Linked DNA regions of Homo sapiens. The protein of the gene in region 3 purifies or fractionates together with the protein of the main gene of each other region. This does not show direct contact. Each region holds a gene or a part of one and is shown on either strand. Other genes may lie near its edges.

Region 1 (7,193 bases), on a different chromosome or scaffold from region 3:
ACGAAAAACTGGCCGGGCGTGGTGGCGGGTGCCTGTAGTCTCAGCTACTCAGGAGGCTGAGGCAGGAGAATGGCGTGAGCCCAGGAGGCGGAGCTTGCAGTGAGCCAAGATAGTGCCATTGCACTCCAGCTTGGGTGACAGAGTGAGACTCCGTCTCAAAAAAAATAAATAAAAAAGAGGATGGGCTCGGGAGACCGCTGGGATCAGACCCCGGCCTTTCCACTGTGGAAACTGTCAGTGCTGCAGTTTCCTCATCTGTAAAATCCATCTTAAGAGTTACTTTAAAATTATCTTAAAACCTAATTGTACATCATTTTTTAAAGAAGTGCTTCCAAATGAGCACTTTACAAAAATATCATGTTGAGTTTGAGGTATTGGCAGAACATCCAGGTAGACATAACCAAGTACATATATAGATACACAGCTTAGAGTGGAGACTCAGAGGAGGTCTGGGTGGAAATAGGGATTTGAAAGTCATTGGCATATAAAGTAACAGTTAAAACCATGTGTTTTTTTTTTTGAGTAGTGGTATTTTCGTTGTATAAATATTATGTTTATAAATCTGAAATTTGGCAGTCCATTGTTTCTTATAGATAATTTTTATAGATAAGACCTTAGAAAGGACTTCCTCATGTGTACTTTTTTTTTTGGCAATTCAGGAAAATTTAAACCTAGCTCTGAATTCTGCCTCAGCCATTGGTTGTACAGTGGTCAACATTGGTGCATCAGATCTCAAAGAAGGAAAACCTCACTTGGTCTTGGGACTTCTCTGGCAGATCATCAAAGTTGGCCTTTTTGCTGATATTGAGATTTCCAGGAATGAAGGTAAGATCATTAGAAATATTTGCTGTTCATTGACATGTACTTGCTATGGGAAGAATTTACATTTCGCTGTTTTGCCCTCAGCTCTGATTGCATTGTTAAATGAAGGTGAGGAACTAGAGGAGCTGATGAAGCTTTCTCCCGAGGAATTACTGCTGCGATGGGTGAACTACCATCTGACCAATGCAGGATGGCATACCATCAGCAACTTCAGCCAAGACATTAAGGTTTATATTTAAATGTTCAAATTTGTGACATGAAATAAGGATGTGCAGTGTAAAAATAAAAGGGGTTCAGACTTAAATTTGAATTAAATTCACAAGAACACTTGGGATAGAAAATGAAAATTTGCATTACTGTGTGAAGTAGATCCCCCAATTATATTCACAAAATATATATTTTCTAAAAACCAGATATATTGGCTTTTAATAAGAACTACAACTGACTGTGAGAGGAAAGAGGTGCTAGCCTCAACAGATTAAAACACACTTTCTCATTTTTTATGCCTGAGATCTGCTAGATTATAATGAGGATGTCAGTCTGTTCATTTGGACTAATAATTATATCTGTTTACTGGTTTAACACTCTTACTCCCACTTTGCCAATAACCAGCTAACAGGAAATCAGATTATCTGAGGGTACAGAGAATCAGTAAATAAAGGGGATCTTAAGGTATGTGCCTTAACCAGGGTAGCTTAAAACACTTCCCTCTCTACTGGGAGAATCTTGTCAAGGAAACTATAACAGGCATTTTTGTCTAATGACAACTTTCCCTTGGTTACTGCCTGGATGGGCATTGCCAAGCCGGGTCGCTGTGACTTTTTTCTTCTCTCTGTTTCTTTATGTCCTCCCCCATCCTGCCCCCCAAGAGTAATCAGTGCTGGCTCTAATTCATGTTCCGTCTTTAGCTATATAACCTTCAGTCAGGTTATCTTTTTCCATAATGGCCTACAGGACAGTCTCTCAATTTGAAGTGACATTTTATTTCTCTGCTTTCATCTACTATACACTGTTATATTTGAAAGTTTATTTGGGAGATTTCTCTTATTCTGAAATCTCTGAAAATTCAGCTAATCAAACATTTATTCAGCTCTTTCTGAGGGGCATTATGCCCAGGCGATGCAAAGACTCAGCTCTTGAGAAGCTTGCCAATTCTACTCAGAGACAAACATGTACCAGAGGGATATTTCAGTTATCTATTGCTATATAGCAAATTATGCAAAATTTGCTTAAATAATGATTATTTCTCATCATTTTGTGGGTTGATGCATCTTGGCTGGGTGGTTCTTCTGCTTCACATGGTTTTGGCTGGGATTACTAACTCGATTACATTCAGCTGTCAGTTGGGCTCATCTGGAAAGTACACAAAGGCCTCAGTCACATGTCTGGTGCCTCAGTGCTCCTCCACAAGGCCTCTCTACATGGTGAGCTCAGGCTTCCTCACAGCATGATAGTCTCAGATAGTTGGACTTCTTATGTAGAGGTTAACTTTAAGAGAGAGGAAGCAGAAGCTCTTAAGATTTGGGCGTGGAAGCCCCAGAACATCACTTTCACAGCATTCTCTTAGTTAACGTGAATCATAAGGCCTGTCCAAATTAAAGAGGACAGGAAATAGCTTCTGCCTTTTGGTGGGAAGAGTTAATGTATGCATGGGGAAGAACTATATATCCATCTTTGGAGACAATGACATTAGATGATTTAATAGTGTGATCACTGTTTACTTATTAAGATAGGCAAGGGGTGCTGTGCACTACAGAAGAGGGGTTCTTAGTTCATCCTAGAGAATCCAGGGAAGGCATACGGGAGATAATACTTGACCTGAATCTTAACTGATGTTGATGCTTGGGTGTGTAAACAGATGGAAAAGTAAGGGAGGGTATCCAGGTGCAGGAAACAGCATTGCTATAAACTCTGAGGTGTGAAACAGGATTGCTTTGAAGCTCTGAAGTGTGAAACAGCATGGTACATTCAGGAACCTACAAGTAATTCTTTATTTTTAAAGTTATTCCATTCTTTGAGATAGAGGCAATTTCTTCAGTTTGAGCACTTGTTTTCCCTAAATTCAATGATGATTTTATTCGTTTTAAAAATGCTATTTCATATCTTTCCTTGAAGGACTCGAGAGCCTATTTTCATCTGCTTAATCAGATTGCCCCTAAAGGTGGGGAAGATGGACCTGCCATTGCCATTGACCTTTCAGGAATTAATGTGAGTGCAATTTTTAACTTTTAAAATATATTGTGGTAAAACAGACGTAGAAAATTTACCATTTTTATCATTTTCAGTGTTCAGTTCAGTGGCATTCAGTACATTTGCATTGTTGTGCAGCTATCACCATTATCCATCTCTACAAACTTTTCATCATCCTGTAGGGAAATTCTGTACTCATTAAACAATAACTCCCCATTTTCCCCTTCCCCCAGGCCCTGGTAACTACTGTTCTACTTTTTGACTATGAATTTGAATTTCAGTAGCAGGTACAGTCAAATTTAGAGTACAGTTCTCTACAAGCAGCATTCCCCAGTAGAGCCCTCAGCCCTCCATTAAAGTTTGGTGCTTTGCTCTATGGAAGTTTTTTCCATGCCCAAGGCTCCAAGCCTCCATGTCAAGCCAACTGGCTATCATGACGGAAGAAAGGGAACTGCGTAATTGTGACCTGGAGTATTTGTGGAATCAATCCTACATTCATGTTTCCCTGGTGCAAGGCAATTGGAACTCACCAGGGTGCTCTTTTGACTGTCAGCATATGCCAGGAAAGGAAGCAACAACCTGTTGTTAGATTTTTAAGCAATCAATTATCAGTTTTACCAGCTTATATTTAGAAATCTACAAAATAAAAATAGATATTCATGGTGTAGGAAGGACTGATACAGATTCTGACCTACCAAGCATACTTCCTAGGAATCTCATTCTTTTAGCATAAGTTATAAATACCAGGGATGGTTCTATCTAAATCAGGATGTCCAGTCTTTTGGCTTCCCTGGGCCACATTAGAAGAAGAATTGTCTTGGGCCACACATAAAATACACTAACACTAACAATAGCTGATGAGCTAAAAAAAAAAAAAAGGTGCAAAAAAATCTAGTGTTTTAAGAAAGTTTACAAATTTGTGTTGGGCCACATTCAAAGCTGTCCTGGGCCGCATGTGACCCACCGGCCGTGGGTTGGACAAACTTGAATTCTAAACATTAAAATTTGGTCAGATAATAGACTGTATGAAAATATATCACGTACTTAAAGTGCGGCGTCCGTAACATTTGGTTTTAAAGGCAACTTGAGTCATTACTAATTAATTATATCTCACATTATTATAATGACATATTTCAGAAACACAGTATTGCAACGCTCTGTAAAATGTGCAAATCATTTTAAGTAAAAAAATTAGGAACTTAAACTTATGGAAAATTTTGAATATATTCAAGAGAACAGACTTAGTATACTAAACTATCAGGTACTCATCCCTCAGTTTCAACATCTGCCAATTCATGGTCAATCTTATCTCGTTTATTCCCTATTTCTCTCCTCTCCTATATTATTTTGAAGCAAATCCTAGACATTACTTCATGGATAAATATTTCAATATATATTTCTAAAAGACAAAGACACTTTTAAAATAAAACCACAATACCTTATCATACCTTAAAAAAATTACAACAATCTGTAACATCATCAAAATATCTAGTCAATGTTGACATTTCCACTTGCCTCATAAATGCCATTTTTTTCATAGTTTATTTGAATTAGGATCTAAAATAAGGTCCACATGTTGTCTTTATTTGTTTGTTTTTTTTTTTTTTTAGATGGAGTCTTGCTCTGTCGCCCAGGCTGGAGTGCAGTGACACAATCTTGGCTCATGGCAACCTCCGCCTCCTGGGCTCAAGTGATTCTCCTACCTCCACTTCCTGAGTAGCTGGGATTACAGGTGCACACCACCACACCTGGTTAATTTTTGTGTTTTTAGTAGAGACGGGGTTTCACCATGTTGGCTAGGCTGGTATCAAACTCCTGACCTCAAGTGATCCGCCTGCCTCTGCCTCCCAAAGTGCTGGGATTACAGGCATGAGCCACCACGTCCAGCCACATATTGTCATTTTTTGATGTCTACAATGGTAACTTTTCTTTGTTAATTTAATAATCTGTTGCTTTCTCTGATTTCATTTATATGATTAATTATTTTGCAACTCTGGTGCACAGAATTAGGTAGGTTATCTTTGGTCATGATATACTCATATGGGTCTGTGCATACCCATTTTTAAATTTATTTTTGTGTGTGGTTGTTTGTTTTGAAATTGTAACAAGCCTCATGAACTCTCAATCTAACAGGAAAACTAAAACTTTGACGTGACATTTTCTGTACAGTTCTTCCCTATCCCACCTCGGTTTTCGCCCAGTGTGGTAACCACAGTCTTGAATCTTGTGTTCATTGTTGTTCTGCTTTTCTTTTTATGTAGTTTCCCTTCATCCAAATGTATCCCTTACAAAATTAAATTCTTCATTTTACTTTTTAACTTCCTTTAAAGTTTATCATGTTATACTTAAATTTCTAGTACTTCTTTTTGGCCTTGTATCTCTAAGAGTTACCCATATTGGATGTCATTGTGTGAATATACAAATTCATTCATCTACTCTCCTGTTTATAGGTATTTGGGTTGTTTCATTTGTTTCCAGGGTTTTGCAATTGTGAAAGGTGCTTTTCCCTATGATTTTAATTTTTAAAATATGTATTTCAACTTGTTTTTCATCAAGAAGAGCCTTCTGGAAATGTCACTCAGTGTACAGTGGGTATGATAACTATGCCTGTTATCCAGAGGGCACTCTACTAGCTGGTCTTGAATAAGTTATCTATAGTGCAACCAGTAGGAGCTTACTGATACAATATTTGAGGATTTTGCTGAGTATTTTAGCAAAAAGGGTAAAATATAACTCAGTTATCCCAGCAAGGAAATTCAGAGACTTTTTTCCTTTTAACTTAAAAGGCACGGGGGCTGGGCTTAGTGGCTCACGGCTATAATCCCAGCACTTTGGGAGGCCGAGGTGGGCGGATCAGGAGTTCGAAACCAGCCTGGCCAACATGGCAAAACCCTGTCTTTACTAAAAATACAAAAATTAGCTGGGCATAGTGGCATGTGTCTGTAATCCCAGCTACTCAGGGGCTGAGGGAGGAGAATCACTTGAACCTAAGAGGCAGAGGTTGCAGTGAGCCAAGATCACGCCACTGCACTCCAGCCTGGGGAACAGAGCAAGACTCTGTCTCTAAATACATAAATAAATAAATAAATAAATAAATAAAGGAATGGGTAAGTTGACTTGGAATTACTACACATTTTGATCTTATTTTGAGTTATTATTTGATATATTTGTGGAAAAGTAATTGCTTATAAACATGTATACCAATAAAAATTATGCCAATTAAAACTTCAATTGTAACCATTTTTGTTTTATTGTTTAGGAGACAAATGACCTGAAGCGTGCTGGACTCATGCTTCAAGAAGCAGATAAACTGGGCTGCAAACAGTTTGTTACTCCTGCAGATGTGGTTTCAGGCAATCCTAAACTTAATTTAGCTTTTGTAGCTAATTTGTTTAACACATACCCGTGCCTGCACAAGCCGAATAATAATGACATCGATATGAATTTACTGGAAGGTGCGTTCTTTCTGCCTTTAATTGACTTGCTATATTTATCTTCTTATGGTATTGTCTTACTTCACTGTCAGAGATAGGGGATTGTGGTGGGAAATGCAATTTAGTGTGTGTAGGTATGTGTATCTATTGAAAAATTAAAATTATGGAAGGTGGTTGCTGGTTTTGGTTAAAAGAGAATGCTGGGGTAAATCTTTTATTTCTCCATAAGAGGTTAGTGAAAACTATCATACATTTAAAATATTCTCATAAATGATCACATAACAGCTCTACCACCAACATGGACAATGAATTATCTATTAGAATAAAATAATTATTTGTAGGTGTTTTTCTCCTTTGAAAGGTCCAGTTTGACTCTAGTATTGTTCTCTTTTTAAGGTTTTTAGTGTACATGAAAAAAATTACAGTGTTCGTTATTTGTCTTTTGTGTGGTCTATCGTTATCTGTCTCATAATATATAATACTTTCCTGTTTTGCTTCATGAAATGCAGATTTGACCCCTCCTAATGTAGGTACTGTATTTAGTACTTTTCTATACTCTATAAATATATTCATTCTGAATGTTCTTTTTATTAGTACCATTTATTCTTTCCATCTGGGTTGATATTTTACTTTTTGCATTGTTCATGCTGTGTTATTTCTCTCTTAATATGCCCATAGAATGAAACACAAATAAAACTTAATTAGAATAGCAGAACAAAGCTTTGATTTTGTAAAATTTCTACCTAA
Region 2 (7,147 bases), on a different chromosome or scaffold from region 3:
TCTGGCAAAGGGATATACAAATTTAAAAATAATAATAAATGCTACCTAAAAACTTCTGTATAACAGAGGTGGCAAACTCAAACGTCTAAAGAAGCACCATACAACAGACCTTTCTACAATGATAAAAATGTTCATGTCTGCACTGTCCAATAAGGTAGCCCCTACATGTGGCTACTGAGCATTTGAAATGTGACTGGTGCATCTGAGGAATGAAATTTTTAACTCAGTTAAATGGCCATATGTGGCTAGTGTCTACTGTATCGCACAGTACAGGTTTGTAGGGTCCAGGCAAGTGAATATCAGCAAAGTGATACTGATGTGAATGCAGATTCATGACCATCTAAAGGAGGTGCAAACAGTTATGATGGAATTTGAACTTGCTGTGGCCAAATGATTCAAAACTTTTAAGTAAAGCCAGAATTTCAGATTTTAGGTGAAATTTATCAATTTTTAAATGTTGGCAATGAACTTAAAAAATTTTAACGACCTTAACCAAACATTCAGATTTTGTATTTTTGACCTCTGAACTGTATTATTATTCATTCATTCTGAAAATGTTTAATGAGTGCCCACTAAATGCTAGGCACCATAATGGATGCTAGAGATACTGCAGAGAACAAAACAGATTTTAAAAAACCCTCCCCAATTTGCAAAAATAGTAATGAGAAAATATGCTAGTATATACAAAAATAAATCTGAAAAAAGATACACCAAACTATTCACAATTATTTTGAATGGCAGGATGGTGGTTAAGAGGGATTATTAGTATTTTCACCTTATATATTTCTGTGCAGTTCAAATTTCTACGGGATGTATTATTACTTTTTTAAACCTCCACTCAGGCAACTATTTCTGTAATTCCCATTGTTTTTCTTTTCTTTTCGAGACAGGGTCTCACTTTGTCGTTGTCCAGGCTGGAGTGCAGTGGTGCCACCTCGGCTCACTGCAACCTCGCCTCTTGGGTTCAAGCAATTCTCGTGCCTCAGTCTCCTCAGTAGCTGGGATTACAAGCATGCATTACCACATCTGGCTAATTTTTGTATTTTTAGTAGAGACGGGGTTTCGGCAAATTGCCCAGGCTAGTCTCGAACTCCTGGCCTCAAGTGATCTGCTCACCTCGGTCTCCCAAAGTGTTGGGATTATAGGCCTGAGCCACCGCACCTGGCCAGCCCAGCTAATTTTTTAATTTTTTTCTGTAGACACGGTGTGTCACTATGTTGCCCAGGCTGGTTTTTAACTCCTGGGCTCAACTGATCATACTGCACTGCGAAGTGTTGGGATTACAGTCATGAGCCACCACGCCTGGACTTTCGTTGGTTTTCCATGGCTTCCACAAACTCCTTCATATGGCGAACCAGGCCCTCCTACTACTTCTCCAGGCACCTTCCCCAACCCTCCTTCACCCATTCCTAAATTCCAAACTCCCTGATTTACTTACACCCCACAGAAAAAGAAAGCTCTCATCTCTATGTCTATGCACATCTATTCACACTGCTTAGCTCTGCACATGACAAGCAAACTCCTTCTCATTTCTCATGACTTGTGTAAAAATTTTAAAAGAATCCTATTGACACAGAAGGTATAAGCAAAAGCCCCAACACTACGCATATATAATTAAAACCATTATCATTTCTATCACTGACAACCAAGTGTCGTTTTGAATAGAAACAGTGCCTGATATTTTGTAATACCCGGTTTATCCTGAAGAAAGGGTAAAGAATGAGGGAAGAAATCTATTCATGCATTTTCAAGGAGCCAATCACTAGACTACAGAGCACATAAGAAAAAAAAAAATCAGGGCTGACATATTCTCTTCAAAGAGCTGTGGCAGGTCAACAAACATAGCTGGCAGACTTCTAGGATAACAAAATTAATGATGTGAGAAAATTAAACAATTTGGATTGTTAGCCTCTACGAACATTTCAGATCCTTAATTCTTTAAGTACCATCTCCGAATGAGCAAGTGCAGCACTCACTGGCACTCACAGCTGAAGCCTGGAAGACAGTTTTAACAACTCTTGCTGAAAATGACTATTTCTTCTCTAGTTTCTATGGAAACAGCTGTCAGATTGGCAAAAATAGGACATGTACTTTAAAATAATCATTCAAGCAAAGTACACACATGATGGAAGGCTTTAAAAAAGAATTGGACGGCAGCAGACTTGGTTCTTAAGCTTCCAAATGTCAGACTACACCCCTTCACCCCGGCTGAGAATGACGGAGATGAACCTAAATCCTTTTAGCGAGGGTTGCACGACCTTGATCAACGCCTGAATGCCAAATAAGGGATTTTCATCTCCCTGGACTACAATTTCTTGTTGAGGATTGCACGGCACAATAAAACTGTTGCTCCACACACAGGCGACATTTAAACAGTATACAGTGAGTTCTGTAGACGAGTTTACGAGGAAATTGTTAAAACTCCCCGGAACTGCTTAGACGGGGAATGTTCTGGTTTGCCCTGCCGAGTTTAGGCTGGAAAACGTGTTCAGTTTCTCCTGAAGAGGGAAGGGGTGAAAGAGACGAATGCCCGACGCGCCGGGAGGCGGTCCCCTCTGGCAGAGGTGCCGGGTGAGGAGCCCGAAGCCCCGCGGGTGAGAAACCCTGCTCTGAAAGCGGAGCCGCGGATAAGGGCGGGCTGAGGGGGAGGGCAGGCGGCCCACGAAAGTACTGCCACGGGGCAGACACACGGGGTCACCGGCGTGCCCCGGGCAAGGCTAGGGGAGAACCGGGCTCCCCCAGGACAGATCCCCTCCGTCTCCCGCCCCGGCGCCCCCCGCCCCTCCCCTCCACGCAGCCTTATCGCCCACCCACGCCTCCTCCCGTACCCCCATCCCCAAGGATCCCCACTCCTTGCCCGGGCGCCCCCGCAGGCGCTCTGCGCTCCGCCCCCTCCCCACTGCCGCACTCTGCCTCCTCCCCTGGGCACGATCCTACTCGGAAAAGCTGGGGAAAAGCGTCACCGTGAGGACTGACTCAAGCAGAAGCGAAAGCGGTGACACCGCAGACCCGACCTATGCGCAGGCGCGCACCCGCACTTCCTGCCCGCCATACCGGCCGGGGCGCCCTTCGCTCCGCCCACACCCGGCAGTCAATACAGCCGCCCAGAGTCGTTCTCCCAGCTGCCCCGGGCCCCGCGGAGACTGTGGCGCTCTAGCGCCTCCGTGTGGCTTAAGGCGGGACATGGCCCTGGGCTGGGCTGCTTGCCTAGGAACAACTTTCTCCCGTCTTTGGTGAGTTGGGTCCTCTAAAGAATGATCCACGCAAGGCTGTGTCCGTTGTAGTCTCTACGGCAGTACCGGCCAAAAGGGAAGAGACTCGAAGACTGCCAAAAGACGAAGGCTTCCTGGTTCTGAATCTGCATTCATAGAAATAGTCTTTGGAGTATGGGAACAGTGCTTTCATATGATTTTTGGAGGGACGCATTTTAAGAAAGATGAAGTATAATCTTAAGTGTCTGGAGGTTAAAGTAGCTGGCTCCAAAATTATGTGTATAGTATGTTTCATTCATTTCACCAAAACATATTTCTTGAGCATCAACTACATTTTAAGTGCCAAGGATGTAGCAGTGAACAAGACAGACCTGAATTTCGTGAACTTTATATCACAGTGAGGAAAGACAGGCGATTAAAAAAAAGTGTACAAATAAACACAAATAAATAAAAGTGTACAAATAAGCCAGTACAAATAAACACTGGATTGTGATGGATGAGTAGTGAGGTCTCATATTAGTTTATTATGTTTACACTCTGTGCACAATGAAAACATCTCAAAGGACATAAACACTATGTCAAAGGACATAAACACTATGAACAATTTTAGGTATCTCTTTTGGAAAATGTGTAAGTTACTGTTTCGTTTATCTTATGTGTATTTTATGATTTGCCTTTTACTTTGAAAGGGATATCCTGGAAAACCCCTGACAACTGGACCCCTAAAAACTGAAGTAGGAGGTCCTTCAGTCTTCGTAGGGTTTATCTCCCAAACTCTGGAGTGCACATGTCTTACCAAAGTTTCCAGCATGCTAGCCACCTCTTGCTCATCTTGCCTGGTTAGCATAATGTCATTGGTGAAATAGATGGGTGTGATGTTCTCTGGAATTTCCAGTTGATCCAGCTCCTTTTGGACTGCGCAGAGCCATTATGTCATTATCCTGGGTCCACCTGATTTCCAAAGGGGCCAGACTGGCAAGTTAAGTAGAGATATGGCAGGGATGACCAACCACTCTTGTATATTTCAGGTCTTTAATTATGACATTAATCTCCACCATCATCTCACTATCCCCTCAGATGAAATATCGGTTTTGATTTATTATCTTCACTTGGAAAGAAGGACAGCTTCAGAGGCTTCCCATTGGCTTTCCCCACCATGATAACTCAAGACCAAGGACCCTGAGCTTCTTACCAATGTGGAGATTGCTCCAGCTGCCCAATATGTACTCCCAATTATGCACTCAGGAACTAAGAAAATGACTACTGGATGGGTCAGTGTATTCCTGGACCCACTGTAAGCTGGACATTATCCAGGACTCTGCTTATTACCTGATCCCCATAAGCCCCCACACTTAGAGAGGAGCCATGTGTGTTACATACTTTGGGTAACACCTGTGAAATGTCTGGGTATTCCTCTTTCCTCAACATAAAATCAGTCAAGAAAATGGCCGTGGGACACAGACCAAAGAGTAATCATTAATTACAGTAAATATTTGTTTCAGTATTGCAGGATTCTTCTTTATAGGGACCCAACAACCTCTTAAGTCAACAGATTCTGTGGTCTCAGTGTGAAGATAGGCTCAGGTCTGAGACTTGAGCAATGAGCAGTGCCTTTTATTAAGCAACTACTCCCTGCATAGGATAAATAGCTTCTTGTCTTCCTCCAGTTGTAGATGTTAGGCAACACTCTTGTTGGCTGCCCGTCTGTTTTTCCCCTAGGGAGACCTTATGCTATTAAAGCCCTCCACAACCTCCTGTGGATCAAGCCCCCTTGGCTGCTCCTCTGCCCTTGGCAGATGTTACAGTAATTACATCTTCTGGTGTCCTCATGGTTAAAGCCACCACCTGGCTTCTACTACTTCAGGATCCTGTTATCCCAATGGATATTATCAAGCCCAGCCCTGTGATTGCCTCTCCTACCGTCAGCCCTTCCCTCCAGAGGAGAGCCTTCTCTGAACTTCTTAGTGATGCTAGTGCCCCTCACGCCAGTGCATTCCCCATGGCCATAGAATATGATGCATCCTCTGGGCCTCCCATGGAACATTCCCCTCTGTCTGCCTTCGGGCTCTACACACAAAAAAAATTCTTTCAGGCAAGTCCACTTCCCTCAGCTCCTCTGTCCTTCTACCATTTGCAAGGGCAATTCGGGCATTCCTGCTTTACTCTGCATGCACTATGGCTTTCTCTCAGCTTCTAATAGTCACCTAGCAGTGAGTTTACCCATCTTCTACAGTCCCAAGTCCCAAGAAAGTGCCCCCAAGACAATGAATTTTTATTTAGCCAGGCTTGTTCTGGAATAGGAATTAAAAGAAATTAAAGAATGTGTAAACAGAAACTCAGTTCTATGTAAGAAAACCCACCTCCCCCCGAGAAAGAGAAAGAGCTGGAGTCCTTTAAATATTAACTGCCTGTTTTTCTGTGGCTAGTGAGCCTTATCTCTCCCTTTCCCAGGCATTGTAAAGACCCTGTTTCTTTAGCTGTGCGCTGCAAGGTCACTAGACAGATAAACTCAAGCCATTAAGACACGTTTTTCCTTGAAAAGTAAGAAATGATGTAATGCATGCCTCAATTAATTAAATAACTGTCTTTGTTTCTTGCTTCTGTAACATGCTTCTCCCTGCACAGATCTCCCCCAACCCCATAAAATGCTTAAAAGGTAACTTGACTCTTTGTTCGGGGCTCAGTCCTTTGGATGTTAATCCGACTGGGCCGGTGCACCTAAATAATAAATCCTCCTCAACCTCTTGGTATCTCTGATTCCTTATCAATCCCGCCACAGTTCCTGCCCACTTTGATCAAGCACCTTCAGAAATCCCATTCCAGGGGTCCTCTCCTGGCTCCTGCTGGTACACGCTAGGTAGTTCCTTTAGCTCCTACATTATGCAGTCTTCCTCCCCACACCTTTACAGGCCCAACACACAGGCAGCTGGGTGATGCTGGAATTTAACCTGAGTTATCACCCTGGCAGATATCTAAGAGGAGATGGGGCAGGTCCTGAGTGGGCACCTATTTATTCCTTACGCTAGAGGCTTCAACACTGCCTTCCCACTTAAGGGAAGTGTTAGCTTTGACTAGGGAAGGGTCAGCCACCTCTGCAAGCTCTGAGGATCTGCAGTCAGTATCCTCAGGGATTCTATCAGGATGTCCCATTTCATGCTTCAAGATTCCAGATTTTCCCAACCAGGGCCCAGACCTGCCTTGGCTAAGCGTTTAAACATCTCTGGGGCTCTACAACTCTTTTCATGAAAATCTCTTTTGCTCCTCTGCTGTCCACACTCCTCCACTGCAGGTGATAAGAGCCTGTCTGTTACCTACCAAGGAGACCTCTGACTCCCACTCAGCCTTAACTGTTTACAAATGACCCTCACTTTCTCATTATCCCATGCAGGGCATCAACACAATGTAGCAATAACCAGCCCACTGCACTGTTCTTTCAGACACTGCTCCCTCCATCTTTCAAGTGCATTAACTATCTCACCTAAATGGCATTGCCCTCCACTGGGCCAGTTTCCCAGGTCGCCATCACTGAAATCCACACGGGGGCCACTATCTTGTGCCAGACACTATCCAAGACCCCACATTCCACTCAAGATGGAGTTCTTGTAGCCAGTTGGGCAATTAATGAGCCACTCTCAGAGCCGATCTTACCATCTTCTTCTCAGATCACCCCACTTCTAGTCCACCTGTATCAACAGGCCCTCTAAAAAGCAGATGCCAGGGTGGAATCAGATGTGCAAGACATATTTACTGCGTGGAAAATCCTGGGAAGGATAATGGAGCAGGAGCAGGAATAGACAGGAAGGGCCCTCAGATCATGACACTGGTTAAAGGAGAGAGGGAAAGAAGAAAGACTGGATTAGAAGCACCTCAGGTAGTAGCACAGTTCTAAGAAGGTTTTGAAAATGAGGAGTCCTTAGGCCAAAATTGCCTGCTTA
Region 3 (2,722 bases):
TTGCCCAGATAGTGGTTCCCAGACCCATCTGTCCTCTTCTTCATCACCTTTGGGAAGGTGAGAAGCAGCTTATTTAAAATACATGTATTGGGTGGGTATGGTAGTTATGTCTATAATCCTAGCACTCTGGGAGGGTGAGGCTGGAGGATTACTTGGGTCCAGGAGTTCGAGACCAGCCTGGGCAATATAGCAAGATGCCTGACCCTACCAGAAAAAAATACTAGCCAGATGCAGTGGTGTACACCCATAATCCCAGCTACTCAGGAGGCTGAGACAAGAGGATCATTTGAGTCCAGGATGTTGAGTCTGCAGTGAGCTATGATTGCACTACTGCACTCCAGCCTGGGAGACAGCAAGATCCTGTCTTAACAAAATAAATAAATAAAAATAAATAAAATATAGGTCTTGGTCTCACCCTTAGTTTCTAGATCAGCAGATAGCCTAGGAATCTGGGTTTAACAGGCTTCCCAGTGTTTCCTGGTGGGTCCTGAGTGGTATGAGGGTGCCACTGGGCTGGCTGCAGGACAGTTGCATACTCTTGTCATTTCTCCACTTCCCCCAGTGTGGCTGAGCAGCAGGGACGGTGGCGAGGCTGGTACACCTACACAGACCTGTGTGTGCTGCTGGAGCAGCCGACCTGGCAGTTGGCCCTGGGCTCCCTCTGCCAGCGGCTGGTAAAGGTGAGGAGGGGCTCGGAAGGATAGGGAGCTTGAGCAGGCCGGTGTGTAGGGTGGGATGGTGTGAAGTGATTGCTGAAAAGCCCAGGAGATGGGGTTGGGAATAGATGGGCAGAGTGGGGTGTAAATGGCTATAGAGACCTCCAACTGGAACACAGATTTCTAGAGACAAGGGGTGAATGTGTTAAAGACAGATTCCTTCTTTCTTATCTCCTCTCCTGCAGCTGTCTTGCCTGTTAGCTGTGGCATATGTGAGCAGTGTGGCCCTGGCTGTGGCATCGGTGGCCGTAATACATCAGTCTTTGGGGCTGTCCTGCATCCCTACACCTGGGCCGCCTGACCTTGGACTGACCTCCCGTTGCCTCCTGGAGCCCTGCATACCTTCTGTGCCACAATGCCTGCCGTCTCTCGCTAATGTCTCCAGCTGCCTGGAAGGCAGCATGGGGCTGCGGTCACTCTGGGGCAGTCTTCTGGCCTCACTGACTCCTCCACCATTGCCTCCCCCAGACCCCCCTGCCCCTCCCACTCTTCTTCATAACTGCCACCTTTGCCAGAAGCTCCAGAGAGACTCCCCAACCTGCCATGCCTGCCTCCACCCCAACCGTACAGTCCCCACTGCGCTGTCCAGCCCCTGGTACCATACCTATGGCCTGGCTCCCCCCTGGCCTTGGAGCCCGGTGCTCCTTTCACTTCCTCAGCCTCAGCAATGTTCCCTTTTCAGTGTCATGGAGCTGGCTCGCCTCAAGTCTTTCGTTTTCCCAGGCTAGGTAGGGCTGTGAGGAATGCATTAAGAGGGTTTGGGAGTTTCTGAGAACCTGGAGGAGCAAAGCTTGATTCAGATCCTGTCTGCCTCGCTGGGTCCTTGGCAGGTCCCCTGTCCTCCTGGGTGGGAGCTTATGGGGTGGTGGGGCAGAAGGACTGAAGGTAATTCACTCCTAGATCGCAGTGGCTGGCTGCTTGGCCAGGACAGTGATGCCGCCAGGGAGAGCTTCCGCTTGGTGACCAGGGACATGTCCCAGATGGACATAGAAGCCCCTCTCTGCCTCCCTGGGATTTTTTAGACTTTTACTTTTGATTTCCCTAGGATGGAAGAGTATAGGTGGGAGATAAGGGAAGTGGGGTGAGAGGAGAAAGGAAATGTTGGCATGGGCCTGTGTGATGTCCCTGAGGCAGAAGAGCCGGGGACTGATGGGTTCAGGTGGGAGCTGCTGGGTGAGGCAGGGAACCCTTTTCACTCCCATTCCTTAGCTTTAGTCTAATGGAGCCAAGGACTGCTGGGACCTTCAACCCTGATCTTTTGTCTTCCAGTCTTCTCTTAGTGTCCTGCTCCTAGGTTTCCCTCTCTTCTGGTTCTTCTCCCAGGTATTCTCTTCCCAGGCCTCTCTGGCCACTGCTTTGTATCAGGGTTTTTCACGCTTTTGTAGAACTGAGGTTTCAATAAACAGTTTCAGTTGCATGGCCTGGACTTTTCCTTCTGCGGCAGCCCTTGAAGATTTTTCCTCCCTGTATCTGCCTTCCAAGCCTCCCTGCTTCCTGATCCTGTCATCTCACAAACTGTTTTCTCAGCCTCATCTCAGGACTTTCCTATCGTTTGATAGGCATAGGCTTCCATTTCCAACTTTGTTCCTGCTCCCAGGACCCTGGGCCCTAGCACTGCTCAACTTGGGATGCCATGGGACACACATGGTGACTGTCCTGTCCCTGAGTTGGCCTTGTCTGTCACTTGTTCTGGGTAAGCACTCTCCTTGTGGATCCCAAAGCACATCTCGTGGAGAGGGGCCAGGCCTTGTAACCAGCAGAGCCTTGTGAGCTCCTGAGGGCAAGCCACGAGGACGCTTCTCTCTCCTGACCTCCTCACTGGTCTGACACATGGTGATGGTCACATGGTGCTTAACAATTCCAAGAACTTGAAGAACTCCAAGGCTGGGTCATCACTGGAGGAAGGAAAACAGTCTGGGCAGCTTGGCTGAGGGTATTTGGGACTGCTGAGGATACTTCACGGAAGAAGTGGTTCTGCCCCCTAGGGGGCATTTTGGAAATTTATG

The links.
Region 1: the proteins of CNPPD1 (region 3) and PLS1 purify together in Homo sapiens (affinity purification with mass spectrometry; 2 studies listed by BioGRID and IntAct, with this or other methods). This does not show direct contact.
Region 2: the proteins of CNPPD1 (region 3) and OMA1 purify together in Homo sapiens (affinity purification with mass spectrometry; 2 studies listed by BioGRID and IntAct, with this or other methods). This does not show direct contact.

What each region holds. Positions count from the first base shown.
Region 1 is NC_000003.12:142,683,347-142,690,539, forward strand, and holds part of PLS1 (plastin-1), read left to right. Parts: intron 1-659; coding exon 660-825; intron 826-906; coding exon 907-1,049; intron 1,050-2,937; coding exon 2,938-3,030; intron 3,031-6,271; coding exon 6,272-6,467; intron 6,468-7,193. UniProt on the Homo sapiens protein: Actin-bundling protein. In the inner ear, it is required for stereocilia formation. Mediates liquid packing of actin filaments that is necessary for stereocilia to grow to their proper dimensions.
Region 2 is NC_000001.11:58,543,727-58,550,873, forward strand, and holds the start of OMA1 (metalloendopeptidase OMA1, mitochondrial precursor), read right to left. Parts: upstream 3,001-7,147; 5' UTR 2,977-3,000; intron 1-2,976. UniProt on the Homo sapiens protein: Metalloprotease that is part of the quality control system in the inner membrane of mitochondria. Activated in response to various mitochondrial stress, leading to the proteolytic cleavage of target proteins, such as OPA1, UQCC3 and DELE1.
Region 3 is NC_000002.12:219,171,308-219,174,029, reverse strand, and holds the end of CNPPD1 (protein CNPPD1), read left to right. Parts: intron 1-562; coding exon 563-680; intron 681-901; coding exon 902-1,444; 3' UTR 1,445-2,133; downstream 2,134-2,722.